Linked DNA regions of Homo sapiens. The protein of the gene in region 5 purifies or fractionates together with the protein of the main gene of each other region. This does not show direct contact. Each region holds a gene or a part of one and is shown on either strand. Other genes may lie near its edges.

Region 1 (4,285 bases), about 85 Mb from region 5:
TACTTCAGTGTTTAAGTGATGTGCAAGTATATGTGTTTTAGTTCTAAGTGAAATCTTGCCAGGTCTTTCACTTGATGTTTGTTCCTAGTTCCTTCACTTGCCTGATTATACCAAGTATGCTCCAGTTTCCCTCCCTGCTCCTGCATTCATCTATCTTTCTTTCTTTTAATGGCACCTTAGATTGGGTGTACCAAAATTGGTCTAGTTGGAGTTATTCTTTCATTTTAGATATTCTACTTTTATTTTTCCCAGTAGAGCATTGGGGTGTTCATAATACATTGTGGATTCATATTAGATTTACTTGAAACCACTCAATTTTTTTTTAGGTGTGTTATTAATATAGTCAGGCAGTGTTTTCAGCTTGTCAAGGTTTTTTTTTTTTTTTTTTTTTTTCCTGAGACGGAGTCTCGCTCTGTTACCCAGGCTGGTCTCCATCTCCCGGGTTCAAGAGATTCTTCTGCCTCAGCCTCCTGAGTAGCTGGGACTACAGGTGCCCACCACCACACCCGGCTAATTTTTTTTTGTTTTTTGTATTTTTAGTAGAGACGGGATTTCGCTATGTTGGCCAGGGTGGTCTCAATCTCCTGACCTCATGATCTGCCCGCCTTGGCCTCCCAAAGTGCTAGGATTACAGGTGTGAGCCACGGCGCCTGGCCCAAGATTTTGTTTTTAAAAATGTTGTCAACTCCTATTTACTGTCCATCTTATCATTTATCACTTACAGATTTTCTCCTCTATTTTAATGGAAGCCTCTGGTTGAAAAAAAAAAAAAAAAAAGAAGCGTAGGCCACGTTAGGACAGAATCCTGTTCCATGTCATTAGGCATCCATCAAATATTTATCCTTTAGGAACTGTCACTAAGTCTCTTACTAATAATCTACCTAATTGTTCCTGTCCTCATTCAGGCCATAAACTTGTATCTTCACCAAAATTATAAAATTTTTGTCAGAGAAGGGTCTTCAAATACATTAATATATGAACTACCAACCTAGTAGTCCTGTCAGGAAAAGAAATGAACTAACATTTATTCAATATTTATTAAATAGTTGATGTATATTGGGTGTTCTTGAATGTACTGGGATGTACAGTTAGAAGAATGAGAAACAGAGCTTGTCTTTAAGGACTTCAATCTGGTAGATGAGACAATCATACCCAATAAATGACAATTTAAGTGTGATAGTAGAGTATGGTGTCTGGGATGACTTAATGAAACCATACTGAAGCTCCATGATTACCCTTTCTTTTAAATGGTCATAAATCATGTCTTTATTAATAGCTTTTTGAATCTTGTCAAGAATTGATACTAAGCTACTTTGTCTGACATCTATTCCTGTTGAAAAGTAGAGAAAGCCTCTAGAAAAATTACAGAAAGAAAGTAACTAGGAAAGTGTGTTTTACATATACTTGGAAACATAAAGCTAGAAGTTACCTCGGAGACCTAGTCTGGTGCAGGCCAGGGTAAGAGGCTTGTGTGTAATTACATAACTAGTTACCAAAAGTACTTGCATTAGATACTAGCTGTCCTGACTCAAGTTAGCGTTTTTGACCATGTCATACTTGTTCCACTATTTATGCAGAATTGGTTTTGTTTACTGCTAGTCAGACAGAACAAATAAACGTAAGCTAATATACTTAGTTTATCCTAGCACAAGGTGTGCATGTACATTAATATTTAAAAAATTGCTTTCTTTTATAGGTGGTTATTGGTGGTAGAAATAAATATTTAATCAATGGAGTCAATGCCAACAACACCAGAGTACAGGATCTCTTCTGTTCTGTTGGCCTTAATGTTAACAACCCTCACTTTCTCATCATGCAGGTATTTCGTTTGAGGTCTTTATATCACTTTCGTAATAGTTTCGACATTTTTTACTTTTAAGCAATTAAAATAGAAGTACTTTATGTTTTGGATTTTATACTTTTTATTTACTATTGTGCTGTGTCCGGCCATCTGTTTAGAAATATGGTTTAGTTACTTGCACTGATATATTCTACTGGATTATAGACCTTTGACTCCTCTAGAATGTTTAGAAGTAATTTTTGTTGACTTTTTGTTTTGTCACTAAAAGAACAATACATGTTAACTGTAAAAAAAAAAAAGCCATAATATATCCTTTTAAATTATTGGATTAATGCATCTTAATATTTCAAGTATAAAAGCTTGAGTAATTTTCTTAGAGACTCACACAAATGAGGAGTAAAGGCTGATTTTATCTTACATTTACATTACTTCATTTGACCCATCCAGCTGCCGTTTGAGAGAATTATAGTAAAGTCGATGGGAGCATCTCAGTGGGACCAAAATAAAAATATTTCCACTACACACCTTCATAGTTGAAACTTTACTTTAAATGAATCTACATTCTAGTAATACAATTCTCTGAGACCTGGGTGTGCAGGTGTTTTGCTTTATTTGTTTTTGGTAATGAATAAATTTAATGGTTTTCTGGCATTGATGTAAAATATTGTATTTTGTTTGAGGCCTAGAAGTATGTCATCTGTTTTGTGAAATTATCCTGGAGGGTTATCATTCAAAGAAATGTTAAAAGTTTTTTAATTATGCTGAAATTTCTTTTTATATTTACCTGTTTTAAATTTGAATATTTCTACTTAATGTTAACTGTCTCAGAAACATGATCCTTGTTAACTTTGTATCATTTAATGAATTATTTCATTTGTATCATTTCATAACTTCCATAATTTGTATCACTGGTGAGAAAGTGAATAGCAAAGTTCCAAAATTCTAGAATCATAGAAGAATTATAGAGGAAAGACCCCCCCAAAGATTGGTATATTGAGATACAACAGCTTCAGTCTAGATAAACATGAATGGCAGTACAGATAAACATTTTCTGTAATTTGTTATCTTAGTAAGTTTGCTATTTTATTTTCAGGGCCGAATTACAAAAGTATTGAATATGAAACCTCCAGAGGTAAGAGTACTATTTATGGACATTAAAAATAGTTGGTATAGATATTACTTTAATCTTTCAGACAATTTTTAAATATTCTATTAAAATTTTTGGAGACATTATTTGGGAATGATTAGTAAAGACAGTTGTATATTTGTGTAATATTTGGCACTATGCCCAAATATTAAAATTGATTTTGATTGTATAAAGGAGTCTTGCTTAGCTGGTGTTTCATGTCAGAATTCATTCCTACAGAAAAAGCCTACAGGAAAAGGTTTGTGTGAAATTACTATATTTAACCTATATGGTTCATTTGGGCCAACTTTTGGTAAGATGTTTAGTGAGGTCAAGGCAAAAATGATATATTTAATGTAAATTCCAGTTGGACACATTGTCTTGGATACTAAACATTAATAAAATTGTCATTCCAGATTTTATCCATGATAGAAGAAGCAGCTGGAACCAGGATGTATGAATACAAAAAAATAGCTGCACAGAAAACTATAGAAAAAAAGGAGGCTAAGCTGAAAGAAATTAAGACGGTAATTTAATTCATATAAAATATTTTCGGAGAAGAATGTAATTTTGCATGTAGAGTTTTTGCTGTAAAGAGGGAAAAATTTTTTTCCTTGGTTCAGTTTTCCATAGTCATCCCTGCTACTTCTCTTTCAAATAAATTTTAATGATACTTTACATGCGAAAATACTGATTTTTCTTTATTTTCCAGATACTTGAAGAAGAGATTACTCCAACCATTCAAAAATTAAAAGAGGTATATTCTGTATATGTGAGGATAATCTATTAGAATGTCTTTCAAAGTCAGCAATGTATCCAAAATCATACACATAGTGATACTATTTCTTGGGGGTTTTTTTCCTGCGATGAGATAAGGAATTAGAGTTGGCACTCCATAACTCAGCGTTCTGCTTACAGAGGATATGCACTTATCTGCTAAGTCATAGGATATTGGAGAGTAATTTTTATAGTTTCAGAAAATGGTATGCCGAATTTTAATACTTTATTTAAGCTAAGCAAGTCTGGATTTTCCTAGTTAGTTAGCATTGACTGGAACAACATTTCTTAAAGATAAGGCACTCTTAGACACCCTCATTGAGAACAATTTCCAGGATAACAGGGGCTATCACTATAATTATTGCTATCAAGGTATTTTGTAAGCAAAAGGTATTGAAACAGAGGATTGGATTGTCTCTGTAATCTTTGCAGCTCCTGACTGTCAAAAGACATGGCACAATATGTCATCAAAAAATGCATTTATGAGCTACGTTTTCTTTTTCTTGAGACTAGTCTCACTGTCGCCCAGGCTGGAGTGCAGTGGTGTCATCACAGCTCACTGCAGCCTCCACCTCCCGGTC
Region 2 (4,285 bases), on a different chromosome or scaffold from region 5:
AGCCTTGACCACTCACCATCCATCTCCACCAGCAGCTGGTTGAGTGTGTTCTCCTGCTCACTCTGCCCTCCAAAGTTGCCTCTTCCTCTCTTCCTTCCCACCGCATCGATTTCATCGATGAAGAGGATGCAAGGGGCATTCTTCCGAGCAAGGGCAAATAAGTCTCGGACCTTGGCAAAAACAGAAAGAGAGTCACCTGACCAGAGAATATTATGTATTCTCTGAATAAGAAATGAAATAAATCGGCCGGGCACAGTGGCTCATGCCTGTAATCCCAGCACTGTGGGAGGCCGAGGCTGGTGGATCACCTGAGGTCAGGAGTTCGAGACCAGCCTGACCAACATGGAGAAACCCCATCTCTACTAAAAATACAAAATTAGGCAGGCATGGTGGCGCGTGCCTGTGATCCCAGCTACTCAGGAGGCTGAGGCAGGAGAATCGCTTGAACCTGGGAGGCAGAGGTTGCAGTGAGCTGAGACTGAGCCATTGCACTCCTGCCTGGGCAACAAGAGCGAAATTCTGTCTCAAAAAAAAAAAAAAAAAAAAAAAATGAAATAAATCTTCAGCTTCCCGTCCCATGTGCAGACAATCTTTTTGTGATACACACTGTAAGGTACATTTTTTAAAAGAGTTACAAGTAGCAAAGCAGCAGCAAATGAGGAGTAACCTGGGTAACCGACTTAAGGTGAGCAAATCTTTCTCAGATCCCATAAATTACTGTATATGTAATAAACACTGATAATATCTGCTATTTTTGTAACATCAACAAATTAACATTACATATATACCTAAACAAAGACAACACAGTAGAGCTGTAAACTTTACATTCAGTTGAAAAGTTCAGACTTCTCTAGAGTTCACATTTCATGCCTAACACAGTTATTAACAAGCTGAGGCTACTAAGGAGTCTATGCAATCACACATATACAGTGAAGCCAAAGACCATCCAAGCCCATCAGCTCATCCCCAAAGAGGGGGTGACAGCCTTCGTCTGCCACCCACCCCACCACAGACCATCCTGATAGCACATACCCTCAGACAAACCTGCAGTCAGGAAGAGGAGGAAGAGCCACTCAGCACCTCACCATCAGTCACCTGCCCCTTCAAGGAGAATCAGAGACAACTCTCCACCTGCCCACTCCCACCCCCCCCCCCCCACTTCACTGGACAGAAGTCCAGGTCTTCCTGCCTGGATTTCTGGATGTTCATTCCTACACTGCTCTGAACACATCCCCTAAAATAACTGGTATCCTTCTCCAGCCTCCCCTCTGAATTCCAGATCTGTGACCTACAGACCCACACCTTCATAGTACATCCATCCCATCCCGGCATGAACAGGAACTCAGCCATTCCAGCAAGCCTTAAGCAGGAGTCTGCATCTTCCCCTACAGGCTAACTGGAGCTGGGGTCCACCTCACACCCCACTGCTGCTGCCAAAATAACTGCTGGAAAAGCCCCTGCTTGCTGAGGCTCAGGCCTTGTGGCAGGCACTCCACCCCACTGTGCCATGGGTCTCCCCCAGCCTGACTGCCACTAGGCATGATGTCCTCAGTGATTTCCATCCATGTGGCTCTCGGTCTCTCAGTTCCCTGACCACCCCTTCATTCACCTTTTACTTCACTCTGACAAGACCAGCACTGCCAAGGTTGCCTTTTAAACCACCATCTTCAAGTCATCTACTCTCTGAGCACCCCCTCCTATCATCTGGACCCACAGACACACTCAGGTATCTCACGCCAACTCTTTACCACTTCTCAGCTCTGCAACCCACCAGGCCCACCCTTCCCCACCACCCCCCACAGCTCCTCTCCTGTCTTCAATTTCCCCCCATCCACTTTATATCTCATGGCCCATCATCATTAACACCCAACTCCCCCTCATTCCCTATTTTTCTATGACTTATCTGCACAACAACAGCAAAGTGTGAAATAGATGTGAAGGTGAGGCCGGACAAGGTGGCTCACGCCTGTAATCCCAGCACTTTAGGAGGGCAAGGCAGGGGGTGCATCACCTGAAGTGAGGAGTTCAATACCAGCCTGGCCAACATAGTGAAACCCCATCTCTACTAAAAATACAAAAATTAGCTGGGCATGGTGGTGGGTGCCTGCAATCCCAGCTACTAGGGAGGCTGAGGCAGAATCACTTGAACCCGGGAGGCAGAGGTTATGCCGCTGCACTCCAGCCTGGGCGACAGAGCAAGACTCCATCTCAAAAAAAATTAAAAAAAAAAAAAAAGAACTCTTACAATTCAACAACCAAAAAAACCCAATTAAAAAATGAGCAAAGGATCTGAATAGACAACTCTCCAAGGAAGATATACAAATATACAAATGGCCAATAAGCATATACAAGATGTTCAACATCACTCCTCATCATGGAAATGCAAATCAAAACCACGAGATACTACATCACACCCACTAAGGTGGCTATCATCAAAGTGTTGGTAAGGGCGGGGAAACATCAGAACCCCTTACACATTGCTGGTAGGGATGGAAAATGGGCAAGTAGTTTGGAAAACAGTCTGGTGGTTCCTTAAAATGTTAAACATGGAGTTACCATTCAAAAACATGTTAAGTGAAAGAAATCAGGCATAAAAAAACCACATATTGTATAATTTCATTTACATGGAATGTCTGTACTAGGAAATTCCTTTGGGTAGTTTGCTTAGGACTCCCGATTTACATATTTTTTTTTTTTTTGAGACGAGTCTCACTCTGTCACCCAAGCTGGAGTGCAGTGGCGTGATCTCAGCTCACTGCAAGCTCTGCCTCCCAGGTTCACGCCATTCTCCTGCCTCAGCCTCCCAAGTAGCTGGGACTACAGGCGCCCGCCACCACGCATGGCTAATTTTGGTTTTGTTTTTTTAGTAGAGATGGTGTTTCACCATGTTAGCCAGGATGGTCTCGATCTCCAGACCTCCTGATCCGCCTGCCTTGGCCTCCCAAAGTGCTGGGATATCAAGTGTGAGCCACCACGCCCGGCCACGATTTCTTCTTGATGTAATGGAAATGTTGTAAAACTGATTGTGGTGATGGTTGCACAAATCTGTGAATTACTAAAAGCTACTGAACTGTATACTTTACAGGGATCAATTGTTTGGTATGTCAATTATATCTCAATAAATGTTGTCACCAAAAAAAAAAAAAATCCACAAATAAAGCAAAATTTTTTTTTTTTTTTTGAGACAGCGTCTCACTCTGTTGCCCAGGCTGGAATGCAGTGGTGTCATCTTGGTTCACTGCAACTTCTGCCGCCTGGGTTCAAGAGATTCTCCTGCCTCAGCCTCCGAAATAGCTGGGATTATAGGCATGCGCGACCACGCCTGGCTAATTTTTCTATTTTTAGTACAGACAGGGTTTCGCCATGTTGGCCAGGCTGGTCTCGAACTCCTGACTTCAAGCGTTCCACCCACTTCAGCCTTCCAAAGTGCTGGAATTACAGGCATGAGCCACCGCGCCCAGCCGTCAATTCTTTAAATTGGTCTACTATAGGTAGCAGACTGCAGTCCTAGCTGGTGCGAGGGAAGGTGGGGTGGAAGTCACAGGCCTTGCTGAAGTCTTAGGCCTGGAGGAGAGCTCAGGCCAGGGACTGGTGAGAGGTCACTCTAGCACTCTAGGGGGAAGGGCCATCTCTAGCAAGTGCCTCCATCTGTGGTGAAGTGGTGGGTGCAAGGAAGCTGTACCATCCGAACAGAATGAGACTCACTCTAGCAGGGCCCACACCAACGAACATCTCCAAAAACTCAGATCCACTAACGGTGATGAAGGGGACATTGGCTTCTCCGGCTGTGGCCTTAGCTAGCAGCGTCTTCCCAGTGCCTGGAGGACCAGTGAGAATGGCACCCTTCAGATATGAAAAAAGAAATTACATTTAATGAGAATTCCAGAAAAGTAAATTGTGTATCCACAAATAATTACAAGATATAACTCTGTCTCTAAATCTTATTGATATATATTAAATATTACTTAAACATCTGAGCTATGGTAGAACATTTTTATATTAGTAAGAATAAAAAGATTATCAAAAATAATTTTGTTTCAAAAAATTTGGTAAGAATGTGAAATTTAAAATATTTCCTTTTTTTCCTAGGGCTGATTTTTAGACCTTTAGTCTAACAGTATGTAAAGGGTGACTTGGGCTAGGAATATACTAATAAATCTGCTAAGGTTTACTTAAATAATTTAAGAAGACACCAACACCACACTCCTGATTTATGTAATTCTTTTACTCTTTACAAGTAAAATTGGTTTTTGAGCTCAAATAATTAATAAACCCAACTTCTGAC
Region 3 (3,219 bases), on a different chromosome or scaffold from region 5:
AAAGCAAGACTCTGTCTCAAAAAAAAAAAAAAAAGGCTAACTCATAGGGGCACAGAATAGAATGGGGGTTGCCAGGGGTTGGGGAGTGAGGGAAATGGGAAGATACTGGTCAAAGCGTATAAGTTTCAGTTATGCAAGATGAGTAAGTTCTGGAGATCTAATGTACTACATTGTGACTATAGTTAACAATACTGTATTGTATATTTGAAATCTGCCAGGAAGGTAGATCTTAAGTGTTCTTACCATAAAAGAAAAAAGGTAATTATGTGAGGTGATGGATATGTTAATTAGCTTGACTGTGGTGATCATGTCACAACGTACATGTACAAACATCGAGCTATAACTCCTTAAATATATGTAATTTCTATTTGTCAATTATGTCCCAATAAAAATGAAGAAACAAAGTCCTCCCAACATTCTGTAACTAATACATGTTTATGTGCACCTTAAGATCCTGGTTTAAACTCCATGAGCATCATGAAATCTTCCAAGGTCAATCTCAAATTTCATTTTCCACTTGGCAACACACACACACACACACACACACACACACACACACTCTCCATCTCTCTCTCAACTTGACCTATAACAAGGCAAACTTGTTTTGAAAGAACAAATTTCAGATGTCTCAGAGACTCAAACATATTAAAGGTGATCTAAATCCAATCCCTATTCCTTTAGAGGCCCAGAGGTTTAAGTAATTGCCAAATGTGTTAAATTATAAATTTCTTCAGTAAAAAATCCATGTTTTTTATTTGTAATCCAATCTGACAATGGTGGTCTGTACTCAATAACTTGTACTACCTTCAAAGTATATCCTGAACCCAACCAACCACATCTCTCTATCACACCGCACTGCCATACTCTAAGCCACTAACATCTCTTGTCTGGACTTCTGCTTTAATGTTTTAACTGGTCTCACTGTGGCCATTGTTGCCCCCACCCCCAACAATCTATTTTCATATAATAGCTAGCATAAACATAAATCACATCATTACTTCCCTTCTTAAAACTCTCCATGGTTGGCCAGGCGTGGTGGCTCACGCCTATAATCCCAGCACTTCGGGAGGTGGAGGCAAGTGGATCATGAGGTCAGGAGTTGGAGACTAGCCTGACCAACGTGGTGAAACCCTGTCTCTACTAAAAATACAAAAATTAGCTGGGTGTGGTGGCGCGTGCCTGTAATCCCAGCTACTCAGGAGGCTGAGGCAGCAGAATCACTTGAACCCAAGAGATGGACGTTGCAGTGAGCTGAGATTGCACCATTGCGCTCCAGCCTGGGCGACAGAGCAAGACTCCATCTCAAAAAAAAAAAAAACCAAAAACAAATAAACAAACCACAGCTCTCCATGGTTTTCTTCCTGTCACATTCATAATAAAATATAAATACCTTAGAGAGGCTTACAGACTCAACATCTGGTCCCTACCCCTCTAACTTTACCTTGTATCATTCTTTCCTGCAATCATTATGCTCCAACCATGTTGGTTTCCTTCTACATTTTAATCCCATCAAGCTTGTTCTTGCCTTAGGACCTTTGCACTACCTATTCCCTCTACCTGGAATATTCTCCCTCCACCTGGAATATTCTCCCTCCAAAACCCTCACATAGCTAGCTCTTTCTTGCTCTTCAGGTATGAGCTTAAGTATCACCTCTTCGGAGACGCCTTCCCTTATCCCTAAATCTAAAGCACTGAGTCAGTTACTCTCTACTCCATAACACTGTTTTAATTTCCTGCATAACATTTACCAGTATCTGATATTTTAATTTATTGTTTATTTATGTTTATCTCATCCCATTACAAGGTAAGTTCCAGAGGAGCAGAGGCCTTGTTTGTCTTTTCTTTTTTTTTGAGACGGTATTTCACTGTTGTTGCCCAGGCTAGAGTACAATGGCACGATCTCGGCTCACCACAAACTCTGCCTCCCGGGTTCAAGCGATTCTCCTGCCTCAACCTCCCGAGTAGCTGGGATTACAGGCATGCGCCACCACACCCGGCTAATTTTGTATTTTTAGTAGAGACGGGGTTTCTCCATGCCGGTCAGGCTGGTCTCAAAACTCCTGACCTCAGGTGATCCGCCCGCCTTGGCCTCCCAAAGTGCTGGGATTACAGGCATGAGCCACCGCACCTGGCCGGCCTTGTTTATCTTTAACCACTGTATCCCTGTATGTACACTGGTGCCTACCATATAGTAAGAGCTCAGTAAGTATCTGTTGGATGAAATGAATAAATATAACATATAGACTCCTTTAGGGAGTTGCTTTTCCATACTGCTCCAGCCATGCCTCTGCTCCCACCCCTCATACATCATAAGCCATGTTAAAGTTGTAAATCACTGAGAAAGATGAAGGGAAAAGCAAGGTTAATATAATGAAAAAGTACAATCATAGGAAAACGAAAAACAATACAGATAATATGTTAGAGAATTTTACTCCCACATCATATTTCTCTCTACCTTTATTGTCAGCTACCTCCTTTGTCCAAGCCAACGTCATCTCTTGCTCGTATTAGGGCATCTCCTCCTCTCTTGACCCACTGCAATCCATTTTCTTTTCTTTTCTTTTCTTTTTTTTTTTTTTTTGAGATGGAGTCTTGCTCTTGTCACCTAGGCTGGAGTGCAATAGCACGATCTCGGCTCACTGCAACCTTTGCCTCCCGGGTTCAAGCGAGTCTCCTGCCTCAGCCTCCCGAGTAGCTGGGATTACAGGTGCCCGCCACCACACCTGGCTAATTTTTGTAATTTTAGTAGAGACGGGGTTTTGCCACGTTGGCCAGGCTGGTCTTGAAGTCCTGACCTCGTGATCCCCCCAACCTCGGCCTCCCAAAGTGCTGGGATTACAGGCGTGAGCCACTGCGCCCGGCCTGCAATCCATTTTCAACATCTCAAAAAGAGATGTCCTTTAAACACAATTTGAATCATGTCATTTCCCTGCTCAGAATCCTTCAATAATGTCCCATTGTAGGATAAAATAAAACAAACATTAACATTGCCTAAAAGGCCCTGTATGAAAGATCTGGTGCCTGTCTATCTCTCAAATTTGAACTGATGGACTCAATACTGTCAATCACACTGGCTTTCTTTCTATTTCTCTAATTCCCTTAAGTCTTTCTTAGTTCAAAGCCTTACTTAGAATGTGCAATTTTCTCTGTTTGGAAATGTCTTTTCTGCTACTGTTGGCTTTGTCTAACTCCTCCTACTCAGACATCAGGTCTGAGCTA
Region 4 (4,285 bases), on a different chromosome or scaffold from region 5:
CTACTGGGTCCCACATTTTGTTTAATTAATTAATTAATTAATTTTTTTGAGACAGGATCTCACTCTGTCGCCCAGGCTGGAGTGTAGTGGTGTGATCATGGCTCACTGTAGACTCAACCTCCTGGGCTCAATCTGTCCTCCCACCTCAGCCTCCCAAGTAGGTGGGCCTACAGGCACATGCTAATTTTTGTATTTTTTGTAGAGATGGGGTTTTGCCATGTTACTCAGGCTGGTCTCAAACTCCTGGGCTTAAGCAATCTGCCCTCCTTACCCTCCCAAATTGCTGGGGTTACAAGCATGAGCCAACATGTCCCGCTACATTTTATCTTTTTTTATCCTCACAATGTTTTACAGATGAGGAAACTGAGTCTTTAAAAGGCTGTGCAACATGCTCAAAATCATAGAACTAAGTGATAGAATCTGAATTCAAACCCAAGTCAGTCTGTCTCCAGGGCCTTTGCTCTTAACCTATGATTGTACTACGTGAAGTAGGGATCTGTAGGAGAATTCAGGAGCAATTTCTGGGTAGAATTCCCCCAGCCCCTTTTAAAAAAGTACTTCTATCGGAGATGTGATGAAATATGAATGACAGGCATGATAGTTTTTAGAGGAAAGATGGCATTTACCATATGGAAGATGGACAACTGTGACAGTGGTGGCGGTGGGTAGCTAAAGGGACGCATAAAAATTGAGTTCTTAATCTAATTAGGATTCTTGGTAGTCAATGTTGGAGAGTTTTAAGGTTTTTAAATGATTTTCCTATTCTTGCCTCTGGAGTTTAGAATACATTACTTAGCTCATTTCTATCAGGGCAGTTACTCTACCTACTTGATGTGTATAACTCCAACACATTACGCTTATTCTTTTCGGTCTTTGCATTCTGTTCTGGAACTTCTCACTTCACTCTACCCCTACCCCCAGCCTGTATTACTGGCACTCTCAGGCTTCAACTTAAATGTCATCTCCTTAAAGAGACACTTTTCTGAGCTCTGAATTAGAGGAGCCCTCTTGGTCACTTTTACTTCACTTTTCCTTATTTACTTCATAGCATATATTGTTATGTAATTGTTTATTGTTTGTCTATATATTGTTAGATTTTCTCATAAAAATGAAAGCAGAACATAGATTTTTTTTTTCCTTTGAGGTTACCTCAGTGACTCAACAATGCCTGCAACAAACTAGGTGGTCAAAAATATTTGTTGAACAAAATTGGCCAAAACTGGCATCATCTTCTCTGAACAAAAAAGTGATAAAAACAGTATCTGACTATTCAGTTGGCTGTGTTTCTGTGTCTTTATTTATTTTTTTTTATTTTTATATTCTAAAAATGTTGCGACAATGGTGGCTCAGCAATTTTTTTTTTTTTTTTTTTTTTTTTTTGAGATGGGGTCCCACTCTGTCTCCTAGGCTGGAGTGTGTTGGCCTGATCTCTGCTTACTGCAACCTTCACCTCCCGGGCTCAAGGGATCCTCTCACCTCAGCCTCTAGTGGCTGGGACTACAGGCGAGTGCCACCACACCCGGCTAATTTTTTTTTTTTTTTTTTTTTTTTTTTTTGAAGAGGCAAGGTATTACTATGTTGCCCAGGATGGTCTTGAACTCTTGGACTCAAGTGATCTGCCTGCCTCGGCCTCCCAAAGTGCTAAAGTGCTAGGATTACAGGCGTGAGCCACCGTGTCTGGCTGTCATTTTTTTCTTTTTGTGGAGACACAGTCTCAGTATGTTGCCTAAGCTGGTCTTGAACTCCTGGCCTCAAACAATCCTCTCGCTCCAGCATCCAAAGTGCTGGGATTACTGGTGTGAGCCACTGCACCAGGCTTGTTCCTGTGTTTTTGGGTGTAAGCAGTATCTTAACAGTCTCAATTAGTCTTAAAATTATTTTAGACTAGTTCAGAAAGTCTTTAAGAAAGCTAGAAAAATTATACATCTGAATTTTTTAAAAAAATTTTAATCTGTTTTGAGAGGTACTAGTCAAATACATTGTAAGATGTCCTTCTATTGGAATTTGTCTGATGTTTTTCTCATTAGACTGGAGTTACAGGTTTTGGGCAGGAAGACCACAGAGGTAAAGTGCCATTTTCATCACATCATATCAAGGGTACATGCTATCAACATGATTTATGACTTAATATTGACCTTGACTGTTCATATTGACCTGAAATAGTGTTTGTGAGGTTTCTACAGTGAATTTACTTTTTTTTCCCCTCCTTTTCTATACTGTATTCTTTGAAGGGAAGTCACTGTTTGCAGCCCACACTTAAGGAATGGGGAGTTCCTTGATCTTAGGGTGGAGTACCTACTTAATTTATTTGAAATTCTTGTCTCTCCTTTCCCATTTATTAGTTTAGTCAAGTATTTACTGATAATAGTGTGGACTCAAGTATATTTATTTTATATTTTAGGTTACACTCCAATATTACATTATTTTGTTGTTCAGGTTGTTCCAGCTTTGTCCTTTGGGAGCTTCCTGTATTCCTTTAACATACATGTGTGTGTGTGTGCGCGTATTTGTATTGATCTTTGAGTACTTCCTTACTATCTGGAAATGTTCCAGGCTCATCTTGTGTATTTCTTGTCCCAGTGCTAGAATCAGCCATTTCCCCAAGGTGCCCTGGTTCCCTTATTGGAGAATGCTATTAGAAACAAGACCTGGGTACTGAGTGTTCTCTTTGCTACTGGGGTGTCATTTCTTTTAGGTCCTTTCAACTGTTAGAGCAAAGAAATATATGAATGTATGCTAACCCCATGTATATAGACATATCTATAAATATTTCTCTATGTAGCCATCTGTGTCTATATTAAGTTAAACGAGTTCCATAGATCACTTTCAGTAGTATGGGCGGGGGGGAAAAACATGAGTTCCTACTGGTGTCTCCAATTCTGATCCATTATCACATAGATCATTCTAGCCTCCTCCCCTTGCTGATCTTTGAATTTCCATTCACAATAGTGAAAAACCTAATTTCCACCATCCATTTATTTAATTGTCCAGTTCCATTATATATGGATATACATACATGGATAGCAGTATCAGAATTGCTAACCCATACTCCATGAAAAAAACTTTATCAACTAGAGTACATACTTCTGTGCAGTTCCTTTTGCCCTTAATCTTTCAGACTCCACTCATTACCAAAGCTACTTAGGTCAGAACCTTTTTCCCACCCCCTTTGGTGAAGTTGTTTCACACATCTGTAATATAGATTCCCTTGTCATAGTCTTCATTCTTTTCTGCAATCTCCCAGTCTCCTAAATGACTTTTTAAAATTTGCATACATTAAAGTTCACTCTTTATGTCATAAAAGTCTCGAACTCCTGCCTTGGCCTCCCAAAAGTGCTGGGATTAACAGTACAACCCACTGTGCCCAGCTGACATAAATTTTTAATTCAGTTGGATAAATACCTAGAAGCAGGTTGCTGGATCATATGGTAAGACTAGTTATAGTTTTGTAAGAAACTGCCAAACTCTATTCCAGAGTGGCTGTACCATTTTGCATTCCTATTAGCAATGAATGAGAGTTCCTCTTGCTCCACGTTCTTAACAGCACTTAGTTCTATCTGGTTTTTGGATTTTAGCCCTTCTGGTAGGTATGTAGTGTCCCCACTTTATTATTATTATTATTTTAAAGAGATGGGGTCTCACTGTGTTGACCAGGCTGGTCTCAAACTCCTGGCCTCAAGCAATCCTCCCATCTCAGCCTCCTGAAATGCTAGGATTATAGGTTTGAGCCACTGTGCCTGACCTAGTGTTCTCACTTTTTAAAATTATTCGTTTTCACGACATTACCTTTTTTGAAAATAAATGTTAGTTTTTTAAGAGGAAACTTTTTAAAAATTAACTTTATTTTGGAATAATTATAGATTGTTCCAACAGAAAAGTTGCAAAGATGATGTGTAGGATTCCTGCATACCTCTCACCCAGTGTGCCCTGTTATTAACATCGTTTAAACAAACTCCAGATTCTGTTTGTGTTTCAACAGTTTTTCTATTCATGTGCCCATTCTGTTTCAGGATCCAATTCAGGGTAACATATTGCACTTCGTGGTCATCTCTATTAGCCTTCTCTGGTCTTTGGCAATTTCTCAGTCCTTCCTTGTTTTCATGACCATGACCATTTTGAGGAGTACTAGTCAGTTGTTTTGTAGACTGCCCTTCTCTTTGTCTTTGTCTGATATTTTTCTCATGATTAGTCAAGAATTACGTGTTTTTGGAAAGAATACCATAGAATACCATATCATATCAGGGGTTTTGTGATATCCATGTGACATCATTAGTGATATTAACCA
Region 5 (3,827 bases):
GTGTAAAATTTAAAATGCCTGAGGGAATTTAATTAACTAAATTTATAAATTGGATTATTTAAAATTTAATCTTTTATACTTAGTTAACTGAGGTAATCAAAGAAAAAGACACCATGAATTCTTATTTATTTATTTTTTAAGATGGAGTCTCACTCTGTTGCCCAGGCTGGAGTACAGTGGGACAATCTCAGCTCACTGCAACTGCCTCCCGGGTTCAAATGATTCTCCTGCCTCAGCCTCCAGTAGCTGGGACTACAGGTGCCCACCATGACACCCGGCTAGTTTTTGAATTTTTAGTAGAGATGGGGTTTCACCATGTTGGCCAGGCTGGTCTCCAACTCCTGAACTCAAGTAATTCCCCCGCCTCAGCCTCCCAAAGTGCTGGGATTACAGGCATGAGCCACCGTGCCCGGCCTGAATTCTTATTTTCATATAAAATATTAGATTTATAACAAGACTTTTAAGTTGAACTTCAAGGCTTAGGCAACACTAGTCCTTTGAATTTACACTTTCAATATATTTAATTGATTAAAATTCAATTGCTTTGGAGTAGTCCCTTGAGTGTACAATGTTCCCACAGATATTTAAAAGCTCAAATGATATTAGTAAGCACTCAATAAGTGGTAGTTACAGATGGTCCCTCAGTCCTGATGATTCATTTATCTTAATGATTTTTGACTTTACAATGGTTCAGAAGCAACGCACTTTCAGTAGAACGTCAATAAATTATATGAGATCTTCCACACTTTAGTATAAAATAGGTTTTGTGTTAGATGATTTTGCTCAACTGTAGGCTAGTGTAGGTGTTCTGAGCAACTTTAATGTAGACTAGGCTAAACTGTAATGTTCAGCAGATTAGGTGTGTTAAATGCATTTTTGACTTAATATTTTAACTTATAGGCTTATTAGGATGTACCTCATCATAAATTGAGGAGCATCTATATAATTAACAGTAACTCTTGCTTTCCCTGTTGTCCCCTTGAATCTCTGCAATTAAACTTCCATGACCATGTATGTATTTCTTGTGACCCTGAGGGTCCTGATTAGCCACAAGTAAGAATTACTCCAAACAAAACAATACTTCTTTGAGTCAATAATTTTATTACTATTATTTTTCACACTGAGGAGACTTAGTTACATAAAGTGATATTCTATGAATTGATTATCAGTAGTAGAAGCACAAAGGTATGGACAGTGAAACAAGAAGAAACACCCTTTATCAGAATGAAGTCCATGTGACAGAAGTACATACTTCAGACAGCCTATGTACAAATAAGTAGAGCTTCCTGTCTATGTACAGACATATTCACAGAGAATAAACTGACATAGTATCACCATGTATCTCATCATCCAGTGAAAATTACGCATAATAAACACAACACATACAAAATGACAGAAGTAATTTGGAAGTGCATCCACTGGATTTTTGTAGGGATGAGGATAGGGGTTACAATGCTCCTTTAAAACGGAGGCGAACAAAGGAAGCATGAGACCACGTCTATCCTAAAAAAGATCCTTTACAAAAATGGCATTCTGATATTTTTAACATAACCTGTCTAAAAGACAGTTTATATGTTATAGAGCAAATGTCTATGTTGGCGTCAACGTTGACAACATTTTCTTTGTTTTAACCGTATCTGAAGAACAAAAGTATAATTTCTCTTGCTTTTAGTGCTAGCAGCAACTTCACTGAATCAGGAAGGTAGCTTTTGCTATTCTTAGCTTTGATGGCTTTTTAAGTATGTGGATTGCTTGATGGTGGAAGCTGTTGCTTCCGGAGTTTTTTGACTTGAGCAGAAGAAATATCAAGGCTAGATGCAGGGTATATATGTGTACTTTGTGTTCAGGGTTCAATAGCGCAATTCAGTAACTGAGGCTCCCTCTTCCGAATAGAGTCTCAGCCCTTTAGAGAAACTCTTCAGACCACAAAACAGCCTCTAACAGAGGAATATCACTGGCCCTTGGTTCAGATACCCTTTCTTTAGGGCAATTTGGCCACTTAAGCATAAAATTGATGGGGTTGTCCAGTTTAGTACCCATGTTTACTCTATATGGACAATTTAGGTACCCAGTTCTGGTGGATTTCTAGACTATTAAGTGCTTTTTAGTAATTACTTTTACTCAAATTACATAAAAGGGCTGGGTATGGTGGCTCATTCCTTTAATCCCAGCACTTTGGGAGGCCAAAGCAGGAGGATCTCTTGAGCCCAGGAGTTTGAGACCAGCCTGGGTAACATAGTGAGACTCCATCTCTTAACAACAACAACAAAATTAGCCAGGCATGGTGGCATGTGCCTGAGGTCCCAGCTACTCAAGAGGCTGAAGTGGGAGGATCGCTTGAGTCCAGGTGTTTGAGGCTACACTGAGCTATGATTGCACCACTGCACTCTAGCCTGGGTGACAGAGCAAGACCCTGTCTGTTAAAAAAAAAATTATATAAAAATTTGTGATGAAGTTGAAACATTAAAGTTTTTAGTTGTGGGGACATCTTTATATATGTGTGTGTAAACAGTGTACCATACTAGGTTAGAAATTGTGTATTTTAGCGGAGAGGAGGAAAATAACCACCAAAGCATTATGAAATCTGCTGCTTTACATGTCCTCCCAAGGAAGGTTAGTAATTTAGGCATAAGGAATTATTGATAAATTGTATACCTCTATTTCCCATTTTTATAAGGGAACTTCTTAGACCCATCCTATATTTATATAAAAGCTCAAACACATCCTACATTTCCCAGGTATATGTTTGCTAATTATCTATTTCATTTTCCATATGGGTGAACTTTGCTTTATATAACAAAATGGATTCCTGAAAAAAATCTACAATTTTAAAATAATTTCCATGTAGTATTAGAACTTGCTAAAGAAACTGTAATAAGCTATTTTGAAAACGAAGACTGCTTTTGTGAAATGAATAATTTCTTTGATTTTCAAACAGTTTTATTAAAGCACACATCTAAAATGTATAAGTAGATTAGGATTGCCTAGAACAATAATTGTAGTTAATAAAAAATAGAACAGATAAACTCCAATTTACAATAAACAATACAAAACAGGAATGACTCATGGACTGCTTATTGATTGACTATATTCAGAAGCCCTGAATATATGTATTATTGGTATTTTATGGCTTTAATTAAGACAGTTGTCTCTTATGAAGTACTATAAAGTGCAATATTAAAAAATTAAAAAACCCAAAAGGCATCCATTGTCCTTCAGTTTTATTCTGATAAGAATTGGGGATTTGTTTAATTAAATGGCAAGAAGTTATCTACCCTTAATTTATGCATGTAATTTCATCCTTAAAATAATTTTATTCAGGATTTCAGACTTTTTTTACTTTTCTGTTTTTTATGACATGATTTTAAAAATTAGTATTTTCTTTTGGTTAGCTGAGTATTTTGGAGAACTGTTAGTCTCCAAGGCCTTAGTTACTTATGGATCCATTATGAAGGAATATGCAACCCAATATGTAAGAATGCAGAAACAAATTCCCATCCTTTTGGTGAACCCTGGCCCATGAGATCAATCAGTAGCTTTACAAATCCTATCCAACCTACCACACAAAAGGATATAAACACACTGCAGTACTGGTTAATAAGTGGAGATCCAATCATTTATCCCAGTTTCATATTTAAAATAAAAATATTGATTCCTCTTGATAAATTAGTGGGTAAGTACAGGCCCAGAGTTTTGGAGTAATCTAAAGTGGTGTCTCCCCAATTTTGAGTTCTTTGTGAGTCTGAGATTATGACCTAATGACCTTAAAAGCAGTTTGTGACCTTGACTTCACCAGAGCTTCATGGTCATGCTGCACCCAGTATAGT

The links.
Region 1: the proteins of SLC24A2 (region 5) and SMC2 purify together in Homo sapiens (affinity purification with mass spectrometry; one large-scale study listed by BioGRID and IntAct). This does not show direct contact.
Region 2: the proteins of SLC24A2 (region 5) and AFG3L2 purify together in Homo sapiens (affinity purification with mass spectrometry, with the first as the bait; one large-scale study listed by BioGRID). This does not show direct contact.
Region 3: the proteins of SLC24A2 (region 5) and PEX11B purify together in Homo sapiens (affinity purification with mass spectrometry; one large-scale study listed by BioGRID and IntAct). This does not show direct contact.
Region 4: the proteins of SLC24A2 (region 5) and CKAP5 purify together in Homo sapiens (affinity purification with mass spectrometry, with the first as the bait; one large-scale study listed by BioGRID). This does not show direct contact.

What each region holds. Positions count from the first base shown.
Region 1 is NC_000009.12:104,096,750-104,101,034, forward strand, and holds part of SMC2 (structural maintenance of chromosomes protein 2), read left to right. Parts: intron 1-1,696; coding exon 1,697-1,819; intron 1,820-2,894; coding exon 2,895-2,933; intron 2,934-3,343; coding exon 3,344-3,454; intron 3,455-3,639; coding exon 3,640-3,684; intron 3,685-4,285. UniProt on the Homo sapiens protein: Central component of the condensin complex, a complex required for conversion of interphase chromatin into mitotic-like condense chromosomes.
Region 2 is NC_000018.10:12,352,989-12,357,273, forward strand, and holds part of AFG3L2 (mitochondrial inner membrane m-AAA protease component AFG3L2), read right to left. Parts: intron 3,844-4,285; coding exon 3,706-3,843; intron 171-3,705; coding exon 17-170; intron 1-16. UniProt on the Homo sapiens protein: Catalytic component of the m-AAA protease, a protease that plays a key role in proteostasis of inner mitochondrial membrane proteins, and which is essential for axonal and neuron development.
Region 3 is NC_000001.11:145,913,070-145,916,288, forward strand, and holds part of PEX11B (peroxisomal membrane protein 11B), read right to left. Parts: intron 1-3,219. UniProt on the Homo sapiens protein: Involved in peroxisomal proliferation. May regulate peroxisome division by recruiting the dynamin-related GTPase DNM1L to the peroxisomal membrane. Promotes membrane protrusion and elongation on the peroxisomal surface.
Region 4 is NC_000011.10:46,835,889-46,840,173, reverse strand, and holds part of CKAP5 (cytoskeleton-associated protein 5), read left to right. Parts: intron 1-4,285. UniProt on the Homo sapiens protein: Binds to the plus end of microtubules and regulates microtubule dynamics and microtubule organization. Acts as a processive microtubule polymerase. Promotes cytoplasmic microtubule nucleation and elongation. Plays a major role in organizing spindle poles.
Region 5 is NC_000009.12:19,506,374-19,510,200, forward strand, and holds the end of SLC24A2 (sodium/potassium/calcium exchanger 2), read right to left. Parts: 3' UTR 1,082-3,827; downstream 1-1,081. UniProt on the Homo sapiens protein: Calcium, potassium:sodium antiporter that transports 1 Ca(2+) and 1 K(+) in exchange for 4 Na(+). Required for learming and memory by regulating neuronal Ca(2+), which is essential for the development of synaptic plasticity.